2 separate regions of the Homo sapiens genome follow, and region 1 is linked to region 2. The links come from fine-mapping of genetic effects on gene expression. Tissue or cell type: whole blood. Region 2 holds a variant in brackets; the other region holds the start of a gene. All regions are shown on one strand. Distances are between the middles of the regions.

The links. PIP is the estimated chance that this variant, and not a neighbour inherited with it, causes the effect.
Region 1: it holds the start of TMEM33, and the variant in region 2 is fine-mapped to the expression of TMEM33 in whole blood (INTERVAL, PIP 0.95).

Annotation. Positions count from the first base shown.
Region 1 is chr4:41,930,992-41,939,099 of GRCh38, forward strand. It overlaps TMEM33 (transmembrane protein 33), which reads left to right and starts at 4,438. Exons shown (of 7, transcript NM_018126.3): 1 at 4,438-4,538; 2 at 7,611-7,705. The coding sequence starts at 4,494. LOC105374426 (a long non-coding RNA gene) reads right to left here and starts at 3,684. Exons shown (of 3, transcript NR_188374.1): 1 at 3,615-3,684. RefSeq lists enhancers at 4,278-4,457, 4,698-4,747, 4,758-4,827.
Region 2 is chr4:41,969,548-41,977,655 of GRCh38, forward strand. No RefSeq gene overlaps it. Among named protein-coding and RNA genes, the nearest start is that of DCAF4L1, 8.2 kb to the right of the region's middle. The variant T/C (reference allele first, on the strand shown) is at 3,371.

The DNA.
Region 1 (8,108 bases), 39 kb before region 2:
GAAAAGAGGCAACAGAGGCCAGGCACAGCGGCTCACGCCTATAATCCCAGCACTTTGGGAGGCTGAGGCGGGTAGATCACGAGGTCTGGAGTTTGAGACCAGCCTGGCCAACATACTGAAACCCCATCTCTACTAAAAATACAAAAAATTAGCCCAGCGTGGTAGCAGGCACCTGTAATCCCAGCTACTTAGGAGGCTGAGGCAGGATAATCATTTGAACCTGGGAGGTGGAGGCTGCAGCAAGTCGAGACTGCGCCATTGCACTCCTGCCTGGGCGACAGCTCAAGACTGTGTCTCAAAAAAAAAAGCCAACAGGAGAGAAAATCTGAATGGCCAATAAAGTTGTGAAAAGATGCTAAGCCTCACTACTACTCACGAAAATGCAAATTGAAAAAATGACATACCATTTTATATACCTAATCTTGGTAAGAACTAAAAATAGCAAATTTTGGCAGGGATTAGGGCTATTCTCATACACTAAATACAACTACTTAGGAGAGTAAACTTGCAATTATTTTAATATGCAAAGTTGAAGATATGTGTCTTAGTTGTTTCACTTTCATTTTACTCTTTAACAAAAATATCAAGAAACATTCATGAAATTACACTCATTCATCAATGGCAACTGTATATTGCTATGGATATAAGAGTTCAGCAAAATCAAAAGAAGTATCTGTGAGATTAATTAGCTATATGGAATTTACAATAGAGAACATTTTGTATTTTAATATTTTTGTAATAAGATGATCCTTTAAATCAGTAAAAAAATATGTACTTACATACATATATATAAAATATATATAGCTATGGACTGAATTGTGTCCCTCAAAATTCATATGTCAAGACCCTAACCCTCATGTGACTGTATATATTTGGAAACAGGATCTTTAGGAAGTAATTAAGGCTAACTTAAGTTATAAGGATGGGGTCCTAATCCGATAGAACTGGCGACCTTATAAGAAGGGGAAGAGAGGAAGACAGAGATCATTTACCTCCTCCTAAATTGAGCACACAGAAAATGGCAGCTGCCAGCGGCTAAAATGAAACTTACCTTGTTGGCACCTTAATCTTAAACCTCTCAGTCTCCAGAACTGTGAGAAAACAAATTTGTGTTGCTTATGCTACCCACTTTATGGTATTTCGTTATGACAGCCTGAGTTGACTGCCATAGACACACACAAACACACACACTGGCAAGGAGACATATAATTCTAAGAAATGTTAAAAAATGTAACTGCTATAAAAATATGGAGTAAATGATATGGGAAGAGTGCAGAGGAGGTGGCATTTTAGCTCAGCTAGGAGGATGAGTAATCCAGGCTAGAGATCTGAAGGACCTGAACTTGGGCAGTGGCCTTAGAAAAAGAGGTTTGTACTGTTTCAAGAGAACCCCATTTGATTTCTCGGCTGCATCTGACTAGCACCTGGTCTGCCCATGGATACTAGAGGATAACCACACATCTGACAGAGGAAGAGCATTACAGTCTCATGGTTTTCCGACAGGGTGCCAGCTTTCCCGTGGGTCCCCAGTCCACTCCCTCTCCCTAGCCCCTTCATATTTGATTCTCAATCTACTGCTCTTCTCATGCATTTTTTTCTACACTTCTTCAGGTCTCAGCAGATGGCATTCCCCTTCCTACACACCCATACCTAGTTAGTCACCACATCTTAGAAGCCACCTCCAAGTCATCTTTCCTCTTCTTTTCCCCAACAACACTGCCTCAATCCAGAATCTCATCACTTCTTTCCTACACGTATGTGTTAACTTAAAACTCACAAGATCTATATGTTCAGAAAAGGAGACTTTATTTCTTATAAGGAGATACAGCCTGCAAGGTGGCCCTCTCATGGGCTGGGAAGCACAGCCTCCAGCAAGGACCAGAGACAGGCACTTTAAAGGAAGAGGAGCTGGGGTAGGAGCTTTATGCTGAATAGGTTGGCTAAACATACATATTCAACAGGTTACAGGAAGAGCTATGAATATTCATAAAAGTAGTCCTGATACATGCGTATGGAACAACATGCATGTTACATACAACCTGTGTTCACCTTGGGGTGGAGACTTAATATTTAATGTATTACAGTTAGGCTCTGTACCTCAAAAGGTGAAGCAGAGACGAAGGCACACAAGTGCATGGCCTCTGTAAAGTGGCCAGAACCAGCCTATGGTCAGTGGTCTTATCTGGAGAACGTTACTGAAATCAGTCTCTTGTGCAATCAAAGCTGTAGCTATGGTTGGTATAGCAGGGGTTCAGTTAGTGTCTGTGAGCTGGATTAGTTGTAATTGTTTTAATATTGCTTCTCTCTAGGCCAGTGGTTGTTTAGCTGCCAGAGGGAAAAAAAAAACCTCTTGTGGTAGAACATAGTTTATTTTTTAAGTGTAGGGGGTGCATGACTTAACCCTTGCCTGGCATGGCCTTAGGTCCTGTTTATAATTTGGTATCCTATTCCCACAAAGAGTTTGTTCTGTCAATGTTATGATCTTTATTGTAACATTAACATGTTAAACATAGGCTGACTTCCTAGAACTAATTTGAAAGGAAAACCCTAACTTTCCACGCCTAAGTAGTTGCTAGTCAGTTGTGTCTAAACTACAAAAGGGAGGGGGTATAATGAGGCATGTCTGATCTCCTGTCCCATCATGGCTGGGGTCCCCTTGGCCAAGAAAGGGATCTATCCAGTCAGTCGACAGACCCCTTACTTAGGATTTTATTTTTAGTTTATATATATATAAATGGCTTCACAACGAATTTCCTGACTTTTAATTTGCCCCTCTGTTCATCCTCCACCCTGTTGCCAGAGAGAACTTTCTAAATCTCAGGATGTCACACTTCTGATTAAAATTGTTCCATGGTTCTCTGGATTTCAGGGTCAAGTTCAGATCCTTTCCTCAGTACACCCCTGCCTGCCTCTCTAGCGCAAATCTTTCACAATCCCCTGACTGGTACCATCATTCTGGTCACACTCAACTAGTCCTCTCGCTGTCCTGTTACTTCTTGCACTTTCTGTTACTCTGTATGGAGTTCCCTTCCCGTTTTAAGGCAGAAGAATATGGTATGGCGGTAGGGAACCTAATGCCCTTTCTCGCTGACTTCCTAGAACTAAATTGAAGGAAAATCCTTACTGTCCACGCTTAAGTGAATAAAGGGCCAGATACTACTCCCTTTGCAAGCCCCAACCTGTTCTGCGCAGATTTGGGAAATTGAAAGTACCTCTGATTGGTTGCTTTTTGTAACCAATCAGACGTTTGCATAGAAGTGTAACTTTGTAACTTCTTCAGCCTCTGATTGGTTGCTTTGCGCAACCATTCAGACTGATTGCGGGCCACCACTTCATTTACATGAAGTGAACTCCAAGTGGCCAATGGGAAACCTCTAGGGGGTATTTGGACCCGAGAAGACTCTGTATCCAGGGCCCTTGAGCTGCTGTCTCACTCTCCCACACTCTGGAGTGTACTTTCATTTTCAACAAATCTCTGCTTTTGTTGCTTTATTCTTTCCTTGCTTTGTGCGTTTTGTCCAATTCTATGTTCAAAACGCCAAGAACTTGGACACCCTACACCAGTAACACTTTCAGCCAACTTTTTGTCGTTCAAGATCAAGGCCCGGACTTACCTTTTCCAGGAAACCTCCCCAGATCCCTTCTGATTTAGGTACCGTCCTCTGTGCTCCCTGTGATTAAATCAGCCTCTACACATATTACACAATCACTATGCTCTGATTTCCGTTTACTTGTTTCTCTTTTGCAATCTGTGTCATATTCCTCTTTTTATCCGCCGTGCCAAGTATGGAGCCTGTCACATAGCAGGCCTCATAAATACTTATTGAAAGAATTAATAATAGACGTAGAACCAACGGGCTTAGTAAGCCCCTGGAGAAAGGAATCAAAGATGTTTCTGAGGCCTCTATATCAGGAAGTGCGGAAATTTCATGGTTTGAGAATGGGCAGGAAAGATCATTTGTGAGCTGTATTTAATGCAAAAGTTGCTCCCCCATCCTGATTTCTTAGCTCACTGGGCCAATCGGCGGAAGGACAGGTGGGGCTCAAATTAGGAGAAAAAAACCACACTTCCCGTCATGCCTCTGGGCACCGCTCCCGTTTCCCCCTCTTTGTCACCGCCTCTTCCCCACGGAAATGAAAGGAGCACTTCCGGGTTCGGCAATAACCTGGAGCCGGCGGCGTAGGTTGGCTCTTTAGGGCTTCACCCCGAAGCTCCACCTTCGCTCCCGTCTTTCTGGAAACACCGCTTTGATCTCGGCGGTGCGGGACAGGTACCTCCCGGCTGCTGCGGGTGCCCTGGATCCAGTCGGCTGCACCAGGCGAGCGAGACCCTTCCCTGGTGGAGGCTCAGAGTTCCGGCAGGGTGCATCCGGCCTGTGTGTGGCGCGAGGCAGGGAAGCCGGTACCCGGGTCCTGGCCCCAGCGCTGACGTTTTCTCTCCCCTTTCTTCTCTCTTCGCGGTTGCGGCGTCGCAGACGCTAGTGTGAGCCCCCATGGCAGATACGACCCCGAACGGCCCCCAAGGGGCGGGCGCTGTGGTAAGTGCGAGGGCAGGGTAGTCTGGCTTGATTTGCAAGAGTTAGGAAGAAGCAGGAAGCGTTGCGAGTCCCGAGGCGTTCCAGAAGCTCAGTGCATTCAGGAATGGGATTAATGAGTTGGGGTGGGGAAGTTGGAGCGGGGAGAGGGGAGGTCCTGAGCGAAGATATGGAGGGAACTACAAGTTTGTTTCTGAAGCGACAATAGGCTGACCTGGAGCTGGTGGCCCCCACCTGTATGCCATGGAAATTGGGCCTTCTTTCCTCTTCTCCCACCTCGGTCTTTTGTTTACCGTAGGCCCCAAGGTTAAAGATGCCGCATGAGATTGTGCCATGACACACATGATCCATGACACACACCACGTGGAGCACACGAGTGCCGGCAAAGAACGTTTCTGCCTAGTTTATACAATCGTATATAGAAATTATGCAAAGGGAGGAGAGCGGTGGTCTTTTTCTTCTTCACTTTGTTCTTTATGAAGAGAAATATCATTATGCTTTTGTAATTTTTTTAAGATGCTGATCTGGAGCTAACAAGTTATTTGTGCCCGGAGCATTGCTGTCCTCTACTTTTTAATCCATAAGTAGTTAAGTATTATTCTGTGTGACCACAATGCAGTTACCACATTTGGGAAATATTACCTAATATAAAATCCATGTGCAAATTTCCATAATTGTCCTTTAAAGCTGCTTTCTCTTCATCTGGGATTCTGTCAAAAAGCATGCATCGATGGGCTGGCGCAGTGGCTCACTCCTGTAAGCCCAGAACTTTGGGAGTCCAAGGCGGGAGGATCGCTTGAGTTCAGGAGTTAGAGACCAGCCTTGGAAACATAGCGAGACCTCATCTCTACTAGAAATCAAAGAAATTAGGCGGGGCGTGGTGGCTCACGCCTGTAATCTCAGCACTTTGGGAGGCCAAGGCGGGTGGATCGCTTGCGCCCGAGAAGTTGAAGCTGCCGTGAGCCAAGATCGCGCCACTGCACTCCAGCCTGGGTGATAGAGCAAAACCTTCTCTCAAAACAAACAAACAAACAAACAAACATAAATTAGCCGGTCGTGGAGGTGCGCTCCTATAGTCCCAGCATAGTCCCAGCTACTCAGGAGGCTGAGGTGGGTTGTGCTTTTGCGCTCCAGCCTGGGGTGACAGAGCGAGACCCTATCTCAGAAAGCATGCATTCAATTTACTGGCCATATCTTGTTTACTGCCTTTTAATCTAGAACAGTTCTGCCCTCTCCTCCCCTTTTTTGTCTTTTAAGATACTGATAGTTTTCAAGAGTCCAGACATGTTTTGCAGCATATATAGGTACATCTAATATGTATATCTATATTATATATCAGGAAGCATTTTACATTGATTTATCCCATCATTGCAGAATTTGTTTGATTATTTGATTAAGGTGGTGTCCACCAGTTTCTCCATTGTAAAGATACCTTTTTTCCTTTCTAATTAAAAAGTGTTCTTTGGCATGATACTGTGACACTGTGTGAATATTGCTCCTCAACAATTTTTCACCCAAAGATCTAGTGATTTTTTTTTTTTTTTGCCTGATGGTTGGACAGTTTACTCTTAAAAAATGTATACCAATAGACTTTCTTAAACTTTTAAAATTGTATAATATACATAAGTGTGTACAAAATGAAACGCATAGCTCAATGATTTATTGCAGAATAAACAACCTGAACAAATAGATTTTAAGGAGAATGTTCTAAAACTAACTTTCAAGCTGTGGTGCCCAGTCATAATATTTGTTGAGAAACTGAGCACAGTAAGCTGGATTCATCCTTCACTTGATTACTGCTAATCATTTCAGTTTATTGGAGTCACAGTACGGTAAGTCTGGATTTAATGATAAATCAAAGTTGTATTTCATATTTCTGAAATTACCTACATGTGGGTTAAAAAGACATAAAATAAAACAGCCTGGAATTTTACAATGTACTTGGATTTTTCCCTCAAATTTTTTATATTTTTTTTTCAAAAGATAATGAAATTAAATTACATAGAGCAGTGTTTTTAGACTTCAGGTAGACCCATTAGTGAGTTGAGAAGTCAGTTTAGTGTAAACACCAGCTATTTTTAAAAAATTAAATAGAAAATGTCAAAATCCATTATATACAGTAGGGTAAATATTTGTGAAACTTTTGTTTATATATCCATGTATATGGATCTCAATGTTAAAATTACGAAGATCCTAGACAAAAAATGTAAAAGCCACTTTTGAATATAAGATACATTTTAATGAGAAAACACATTTTAAGATTCTGCTTTAGTGGTAATAGACATAAGTATTGGGGGGAAAGCAGCAAAGGAAAGATAGAATGGGAAAAAAATGGGGGAAGAAAATGGTATAGGAAAGTTTAATCTAGGACCACCGAAACTAGGGTAAGACTTGTGGGGGAACATGGAGGTGATAAAGAGAGTGGTGTAATCAGAGAGGCAGGTGGCCATTTAATACCTGTCAGCCACATTTTGAGCACCTAGAGTATGCCAGGCCCTTGTGCATGTAGGCAGATTACAAGGCGAATGAGTTTAGTTGTTACTACTATCATGGTTTTATATTTCTTCTTCAAAAGGTTTCTTTAATCCCAACTGGCTTTATGTGATGTTTTACTCAGCTCTGAGACCTACCTATTCGGATTTGAGATTTTTTGCTAAGAATAGGCATATGGATCTCTTGAGAGCAATTAGTTTTTGTTTAATGTTCTTTTAAAATAGATGAAGCCAATATTGCAAGTGTTAAAGGAACACAGACAATTGTAGTTGAATTTCTGTTAAGATTATTTTTTCTAATTAATTAGTCTTTGCATTTTTTTAAAATGTCAGCTGATATTTTTCTATTTATTTCTGTTTAAGTACTTCTTGTGCTTTCCACATGAAAACTATAAGGTGTTTGGACTTCTCATTAAGCATATACATGAAACATGTAATTGCCTTAGAGTTTTCACCTAATGATCTAAAAAAACAAATGGAGGAAGATTAAAATATTTTGAGTAGACATAAAAACCACACAGTCTTGATGCTTAAAAACATGATTTGCAGGCATAGCTTACAGTATTTTTCTTTTTAAATTTAGCAATTCATGATGACCAATAAACTGGACACGGCAATGTGGCTTTCTCGCTTGTTCACAGTTTACTGCTCTGCTCTGTTTGTTCTGCCTCTTCTTGGGTATGTATTATACATATTGCTGCCTTTGATATTCAATTGTTGAGTCAGTTTATATGGAGTGCCTTTTAGGTGTAAGACTTATTAACCTGTAAAGGGTTTAGGGACAAATAAAATACAAGTTCCAGCCTTCAGGTACTAACAACCTAATAACATTATCAGAGGAATATTTTATATCTTGTGCTTTGTGAAACTAACACATTGAAAATCCAAGGAAAAATTGATGTGTGGGAATGAGATAAGTTCATGTTTTTTTCATTTTTACTTATTACTTGACAGGAAGGTCCTGCTTTATAAAATTCAATTTTATAAATTGATTATAAGAAATTCAGTTGGGCATATATATGAAGTGAAGCTATTAAAACGGTAGAATAAGTTCATGTAATTTTTTTCTATTGACAAGTGA
Region 2 (8,108 bases):
CTTAAGACTTGGTCTTTTGAATTCATGCTGGAGTGAGTTAAGGCTTTGGGGGTCTGTTGGGAAGGCATGATTGTGTTTTGAAATGTGAGGACATGAAATTTGGGAGGGGCCACGGTTGGAATGATATAGTTTGGTTGCTTCCCCACCCAAATCTCATCTTGAATTGTAGCACCCATAATCCACATGTATCATGGAGGGATCTGGTAGAAGGTAATTGACCTCCATGCTGTTCTCATGATAGTGAGTTCTCATGAGACCTGATGGTTTTATAAGGGGCTTTCCTCCCCTTCACTCTGCACTTCTCCTTGCTGCCTCCATGTGAAGAAGGGTGTATTTACTTCCCCTTCTGACATGATTGTGAGTTTCCTGAGACTTCCCCAGCCATGCTGAACTGTGAGTCAATTAAATGTCTTTTCTTTATAAATTACCAGTCTTGGGTATGTCTTTATATAGCAACATGAGAACAGACTAATACAATCTATAATTAGAACAATTCTGTGAATTGCTTTATTGAATAAATTGAGTAGTTAACATAATTTCCCACATATTTATATTCCAAAGGATTAGAAAATAACTATTCTTCAGATACTTTCTGGTAATTGATGTTTGTAATGATGACCACCCCCTGTCTTGTTCCCTCCCAGATAGTCTAAAATTTTGAATTGTCAAAATTTAAATTTTGGAGACACATGATATTGTGATATAATGATAACAGGAATGAATAAAGATCAGATACCAGACTTCAGTATTAATTACATACAGCTCTGTGACCTTGGGTAACAAATTTAACCACTCTGAACATCTGTTTCCTCTTGTAAAATTTGGAGAGTAATATTGAATGAAAATAATTTTGTGTGGTGGAAGGTTCTCTCCCCTACCACTCTCTTCCATTTTCTAGAATGTTGAATCTCTCAAGGCTATCTTAATAGAAGGGTGTGTTTTTGGCCAGAACACAACTGTAATCACAACTGTAATCCCAGTTGTCTCACAACTGTAATCCCAGCACTTTGGGAGTCTGAGGTGGGAGGAGTACTTGAGTCCAGGAGTTTGAGACCTGCCTGTGCAACATAGCAAGACCCTGTTCTGTACAAAAATAAATAAATAATTAGTTGGGCATGGTGGCATGTGCCTATAGTCCCAGCTACTGGGGGAGGCTGAAGTGGGAAGGTTGCTTGAGCCTGGGAGGTCAAGGCTGCACTGAGCTGTGATTGCACCACTGCACTCAGCTTGGGTGACAGAGTGAGACCTTGTCTCAATTTAAAAAATATAAATAAATAAAGGATGGGTTTTGATATTGCCTAAGATAGTAAAGCAGAAAAAGCATCAGTGTAATGAGGAAAAATATCTAATTGCATCAGATATTTACATGGGGGGCAGACCCCCATGACAACTTTTCCCCTCTGCCTCATGCACACTCATGTTCTGAAACCTGACTGCTATGAATAGCAGAACCAGTCTGAGTAGAGAAATACTGACAACATCCTTTGGAGACAAGACTCAAGAAGAGCTGGAGCAGGGACTTCAAGGAAGGAGTGAGTACTGTATATCAAAAGAACTAAGAGACTGTGTGTGTGTGTGTGTGTGTGTGTGTGTGTGTGTGTGTGTGAATTAGCACTGTCCAATAGAAATATAATGCAAGGTACTAATGTGAGCCATATATGTAATTTTAAATTTTCTATTAGCCACATTAAAAACAGTAAAAAGGTGAAGTTAATTTTTATAATATATTTTATTAAACCCAATATATCAACAATATATTTCAGCAATAATTAACATAAAAGTTAACATATTTCACATTTTTTCATACTAAGTCTTTGAAATTTGGTATGGTATTCTTATATCATATTAGACTAGCTATATATCAAATATTTATGTACATATTCCATAGGTACATACGGCTAGTAGCTAAGATACTGGACGGTACAAATATTGAGGGTATGAAGGGGATTGTTGGAGATTCTCTGGTAACCATGGTGTCATTTCACAGTGCTCCCCCAGAGTCTAGGACAAACACCCTGTGTCTGTGAATGGAACTTAGGGATAAGTTGAAGAGATCAAAAGAGTGATTCTAGGCTCATTGGCTTGTGGATTTGTGGACCTTGTGTAGTTTGGATTATATGGCCTGAGAATGAAATTGTGAATGAACATTCTTGGAATTTTGTGTGTATATGTAATTGGCCAACATCAAGACCACCTTTTCCTTCTGTAATGTGGTGTATTGGTCATCATGGGCTGCCATAACAAAATGCCACAGACTGGATGGTTTAACAACCAAAATGTATTTTCCCAGAGTTCTGGAACCTAGGAAGTCTAAGTTCAAGGTGCCAGCAAGATAGGTTTCATTCTGAGGCCTCTTCCCTTGGTTTGTTGGGAGTTACCATCTCACCGTGCACTCACATGGCCTTTCCTCAGTGTGTGTGTATGCAGAGATAAATAGATATCTCTCTGTCTTCCTCTTAAAAGGCCACTAGTCCTATTGGATTAGGGTGCCTAATATGGGTGTGCGTCCCCACCCAAATCTCATCTTGTATCTCCCATAATTCCCACGTGTTATGGGAGGAACATGGTGGGAGTCATTTGAATCATAGGGGTGGCTCTTTCCTGTGCTGGTCTTATGATAGTGAATAAGTCTCACTAGATCTGATGGTTTTAAAGAATGAGTTTCCCTGCACAAGCTCTCTCTTTGCCTGCTGCCATCCATGTAAGATATGACTTGCTCCTCCTCGCTTTTTGCCATGAGAGTGAAGCCTCCCCAGCCATGTGTAGCTGTAAGTCCATTAAACCCTTTTTTCTGTATAAATTATCCACTCTTGGGTATGTCTTTATCAGCTGCATGAAAACAGACTAATACAGTAAATTGGTACCAGTAGAGTGGGGTGTTGTTGAAAATATACCCAAAAATGTGGAAGAGACTTTGGAACTGGGTAACAGGCAGAGGCTGGAACTGTTTGGAGGGCTCAGAAGACAGGAAAATGTGGGAAAGTTTGGAATTCCCTTGAGACTTGTTCAGTGGCTTTGACCAAAATGCTGATAATGCTATGGACAATGAAATCCAGGCTGAGGTGGTCTCGGATGGAGATGAGGAGCTTGTTGGGAACTGGAGCAAAGGTGATTCTTGTTATGTTTTAGCAAAGAGACTGGCAGCATTTTGCCCCTGCCCTAGAGATTTGTGGAACTTTGAACTTGAGAGACATGATTTAGGGTATCTTGTGGAAGAAATTTCTAAGCACCAAAGCATTCAAGAGGTGACTTGGGTGCTGTTGAAAGGCATTCTGTTTCAAAAGGAAAACAGAGCATAAAACTTTGGAAAATTTGCAGCCTGACAATGCAATAGAAAAGAAAATCTTATTTTCTGAGGAGAAATTCAAGT[T/C]GGCTGCAGAAATTTGCATAAGTAATGAGGAACCGTATGTTAATCACCAAGACAATGGGGAAAATGTCTCCAGGGCATGTCAGAGACCTTTGCAGTAGCCCCTCCCATCACAGGCCTAGGAGGAAAAAGTGGTTTCGTGGGCCAGGCCCAAGGTCCTTGTGCTGTGTGTAGCCTGGGGACTTGGTGCCCTGCCTCCCAACTGCCTCAGCCATGGCTGAAAGGGGCCAACATAGATCTTGGACCTTGGCTTCAGTTGGTGCAAGCCCAAAGCCTTGGCAGCTTCCACGTTGTATTCAGCCTGTGAGTGCACAGAAGTCAGGAATGGGGGTTTGGGAACCTCTGCCTAGATTTCAGAAGATGTATGGAAACACCTGGATGCCCAGGCAGAAGTGTGCTGCAGGGGTGGACCCCTCATAGAGAACCTCTGTTAGGTCAGTGTGGAAGGGAAATATGGGGTTGGAGCCCCCACACAGAGTCCCTACTGGGGCACTGCCTAGTGGAGCTGTGAGAAGAGGGCCACCATCCTCCAGACCCCAGAATGGCAGGTCCACTGACAGCTTGCACCCTGCACCTGGAAAAGCTGCAGACACTTAAAACCAGCCCGTGAAAGCAGCCAGGAGGGAGGCGGTAACCTGCAAAGCCACAGGGGCAGAGCTGCCCAAGACCATGGGAACCCACCTCTTGCATCATTGTGACCCGATGCAAGGCATGAAGTCAAAGGAGATCATTTTGGAGCTTTAAGATTTGAGTGCCCTGCTGGATTTTGGATTTGTGTGGGGGGCCTGTAGCCCCTTTGTTTTGGCTAATTTCCCCATTTGGAACAGCTGTATTTACCAATGCCTGTACCCCCATTGTATCTAGGAAGTAACTAACTTGGTTTTGATTTTACAGGCTCATAGACAGAAGGGACTTTCCTTGTCTCAGATGAGATGTTGGACTGTGGACTTTTGAGTTAATGGTGTAATGAGTTAAGACTTTGGGGGTACTGCTGGAAAGGCATGATTGGTTTTGAAGTGTGAAGACATGAGATTTGGGAGGGGCCCAGGCGGAATGGTATGGTTTGGCTCTGTGTCCCCACCCAAATCTCATCTTGTAGCTCCCATAATTCCCATGTGTTGTGTGAGGAACCCAGTGGGAGATATTTGAATCATGGGGGTGGGTCTTTTCTGTGCTGTTCTTGTGATAATAAGTCTCATAAGATCTGATGGTTTTAAAAAACGGGAGTTTCCCTGCACAGGCTCTCTTTTTGCCTGCTGCCATCCACGTAAGATGGAACTTGCTCCTCCTTGCCTTTTGCAATGATAGTGAGGCCTCCCCAGCCACATGGAACTGTAAGTCCATTAAACTCTTTTACCTATATAAGTTACCCAGTCTTGGGTACGTCTTTTATCAGCAGCATGAAAATGGACTAATACAGTGCCATTTTGACTTCATTTAACCTTAATTACCTCCTAAAGGCCCTTTCTCCAAATACAGACATACTAGAGGTTAGGGCTTCAACATAGGAATTTTGTGGGGGCCTACTCAGTCCATAGCATATGGGCTTAGTGTTCAAGAAACATATGTAGAAAGTATTTTATAACTAAGAAAGTGAAACTTAGGTGATGGTGGAATCCTGCTTCAGAGTATAGTTGTGATGTAGCACTTTGTGAGTTACAGAATCTGGCTGTGTTCAAGGATGGATGTTAAAGTGTTTTATAAACTCTAGTGCTATTTAAAATGTTTGGCGATATTACTAGATTACTATGTCTTGCACATAGTGCTGAAAATAAATACTTTAAAAAATGAATTTGGCATGGTAATGATGATATATTTTATTACATGCATCAGATAGTGTTGACTCTAAAGCTCTATATCAATATATCAATGTTGGGGGTTTATAGCACCACTAATAATGTTTTAGTACATATTTCTGGCTTTTGATTCTTAGAAACCACATTAAATCATATATGCTAATTCTAGTTGTCAGAAGCATTAGGTCATCAGAATGTCCCCAAAACAATCCATGAACAAATTGTGTCAGTTATACCTTCAAAATATATTCAGAAATACCCAGGCACAGTTTGCACACATGTAATCCCAGTTACTTAGGAGGCTAAGGAAGGAGGACTGCTTGAACCCAGGAGTTCAAGACCAGGTAGGGAAACATGGTGAGACCCCATCTCAAAAAAACAGAAACAAAAAACAAACAAACAAACAAACAAATCTAACATATATCCACAATCAGATTCTCTCTTCACCCAGCTCAATTATCACTGTGAATAAACAACCTTCATGTCTTACCTCGATTATTCCAGTAGCTTCCTCACTTTTCTCTTCTGCTTTTGCCTGCCTCTCCCCAATTTGTCTTGATACAGCAACCACAATAATTCTGTTAAATCATACATCAGAATATGTCTCCTTTGCACAAAACCCTTCTGTGGCTTCTACTCTCAGAGCTCTTGCAGTGACCAACAAACGCCTCTTGATCACACTTCTTGTTCCTCATCTCCTACTACTTATTCCCTCATTTGCTGTGTTCCAGCCACACTGGCTTTTTGCTCTTTTTTGAATTTGCCAAGTACAAAAGTACTCCTCCTACCTAGAATGTTGTCTTAGATATCAATTTGACTCATTCCTTTACCTCCTTCAGATCTTTATTCAAATGTCACCTTGGTGAGTCCTCTCCTCACCTCCCTATTTAAATATACTACACCCACTTCCACACTGACATTTCTTTTTTCCTGCTTGATTTTTCTCTATAGTACTTATTGCCATATAGTGCCTATCATAATGCACATAGCATTATCACACATTTGTTTATTTTGTTTCTCATTTGTGTCCCCACCAGAGTGTAAGCTTCATTAGGACAAGAATCATTTTTTGTTTTATTCATTGTTAAAAACCAGTTCCTGGAACGTAGTAGGCACTCAATAAATACACATTGAATGCTTGAAACAAAACTTACTCTAGTTAAACAGAAGAAGAATTTTTTTTAAAAGGATATTAGGTATTTAAAAGTCTGGATGGAGTAGGGAATCAGGCTTGGAAGCTGTCTAACCAGGAATAATGCAGTTTCCATTGGGAACAGTCACCACTATTACTGGGACACTCCCCTGGACGTGTGTCCTTACCACCTCCACTGGTTGTATTTTGCCTTACGCCTCTTCCCTTGCAGAATATGTTCCTTGAGATGCCTTACTTTTCCCATTACTTTATTTCAAATTGTAGCTTCTCATAGATGTTCTGATGGTTGGTTGGTGGTTTGTCACATGCGTGGGCCCTTGCTCCAAAGGAGCCCAGGAGAGCAAGTTCCAGCCTTCTACTTTGGGGAGGTAGGCTCACAGGTAGGACATTCCCCAGATATTGGAAGTATGTTCAAAATATGCTGTGCAGTCACAAAATATAAATGCTCTTCACTGGCACTGAGTGCTATCATTAAAAAAAAAATCTAGCTCAGGAGACCTGAAGTTATTTTAAAATTGTATGTGTAATCCAGAATCCATTTCCCATAGCAATTGTTAAACAATGTCTGCTTTCAAATTTATTATTCTTCATTCCTGACCTTGTTCTAAGCTTAACCAATCACATATTTTCTCATTTGACATCCCAGTGATTAATAGCTGAAACCCATTGCCTGGAGAATGGTTTCCATTGTGATGTGGTACTCCTTGGGTGGAGAGTGGGATGAACAGGCAACAGAATGCTTTGTTTATGGAAAAGGAATAAGAGTGTGAGTCCATTATCAGAAAATGCAGCAAGGGTGTAAAATATTGGGCTGCCATGTTAGAGCTCACCTGTTACCATAAAAACCTCTGTACTCAGCAGCTGGGTCAGTGGGAAGCCTGCTGCCCAGTTCGAATGGTATATTGAATTATATGACCAGTCTTGGCATCAGTTTAACATATTTTTAAGTAACTTTTATTTTTTCTTCCTTTCTTTTAGTTCCTTTTTTTTTTCTTGCAAGTAGGAAGCAGGAATGACTGTTCAATTATTAGATATTCAAGTTTAGAATTCACTGTCATTACTGCACAATTCATTTGCTGAAATAACAAGTAGCAGATGCTACAGTGCAAGTTAATGAATAATTCTTATTTGTACTCTGGCCTTTCATTGCAATTCATTTGTTACAGACATGTGGGTTTAGTAATTATTATTCTCACACTTTCTAAAATGTTTTTAGCTTTTTAAAAAGCATTTTGCTCATTTTTTTATTTCCTTCTGTTTGTTTCATTCTATTTATTAAATTCTCCCATTTATCCCAATTGTTTGGGAAGTCTCATGGCTCTTTATGGTTCTCTTCTGAGAGGAATATGAAATACTTCAATTGATTTGTTCCTTATTGCAAATAAGCCAAAGCCATGGCTCATTTACCATTACCGGGTTTGTTTACCATTTCACAGGCACACTTGAGGCCTCAGCTTTCAAGGGCATGTTTTCAGCCTGTTACAAACCATGCTTGGCCTTCCTTCTCTAAAGTCTGCTCCTTCCTAACCAGGAAACAGGGCAGGAATGGAATTTTCTTCCCATTCCAGTTTCTCTTTAGCTGCTTGTGTCCAGAAGTTGATATGGCATAGCTAAAATTAATACCTGAATTGACCCAGTTCACCTTCTGTTTTAGAAACAACAACAACAAAAAAATTGGCTAAAAAGTAAAGGCCTGGGTATTTTTAGAAAGAGCAATAATTAGTGTAAAATGTCACAGAAATATAATACGTTTAGATTCATGTCAGACAAAAGTTATTTCCAGGAAGCTTCT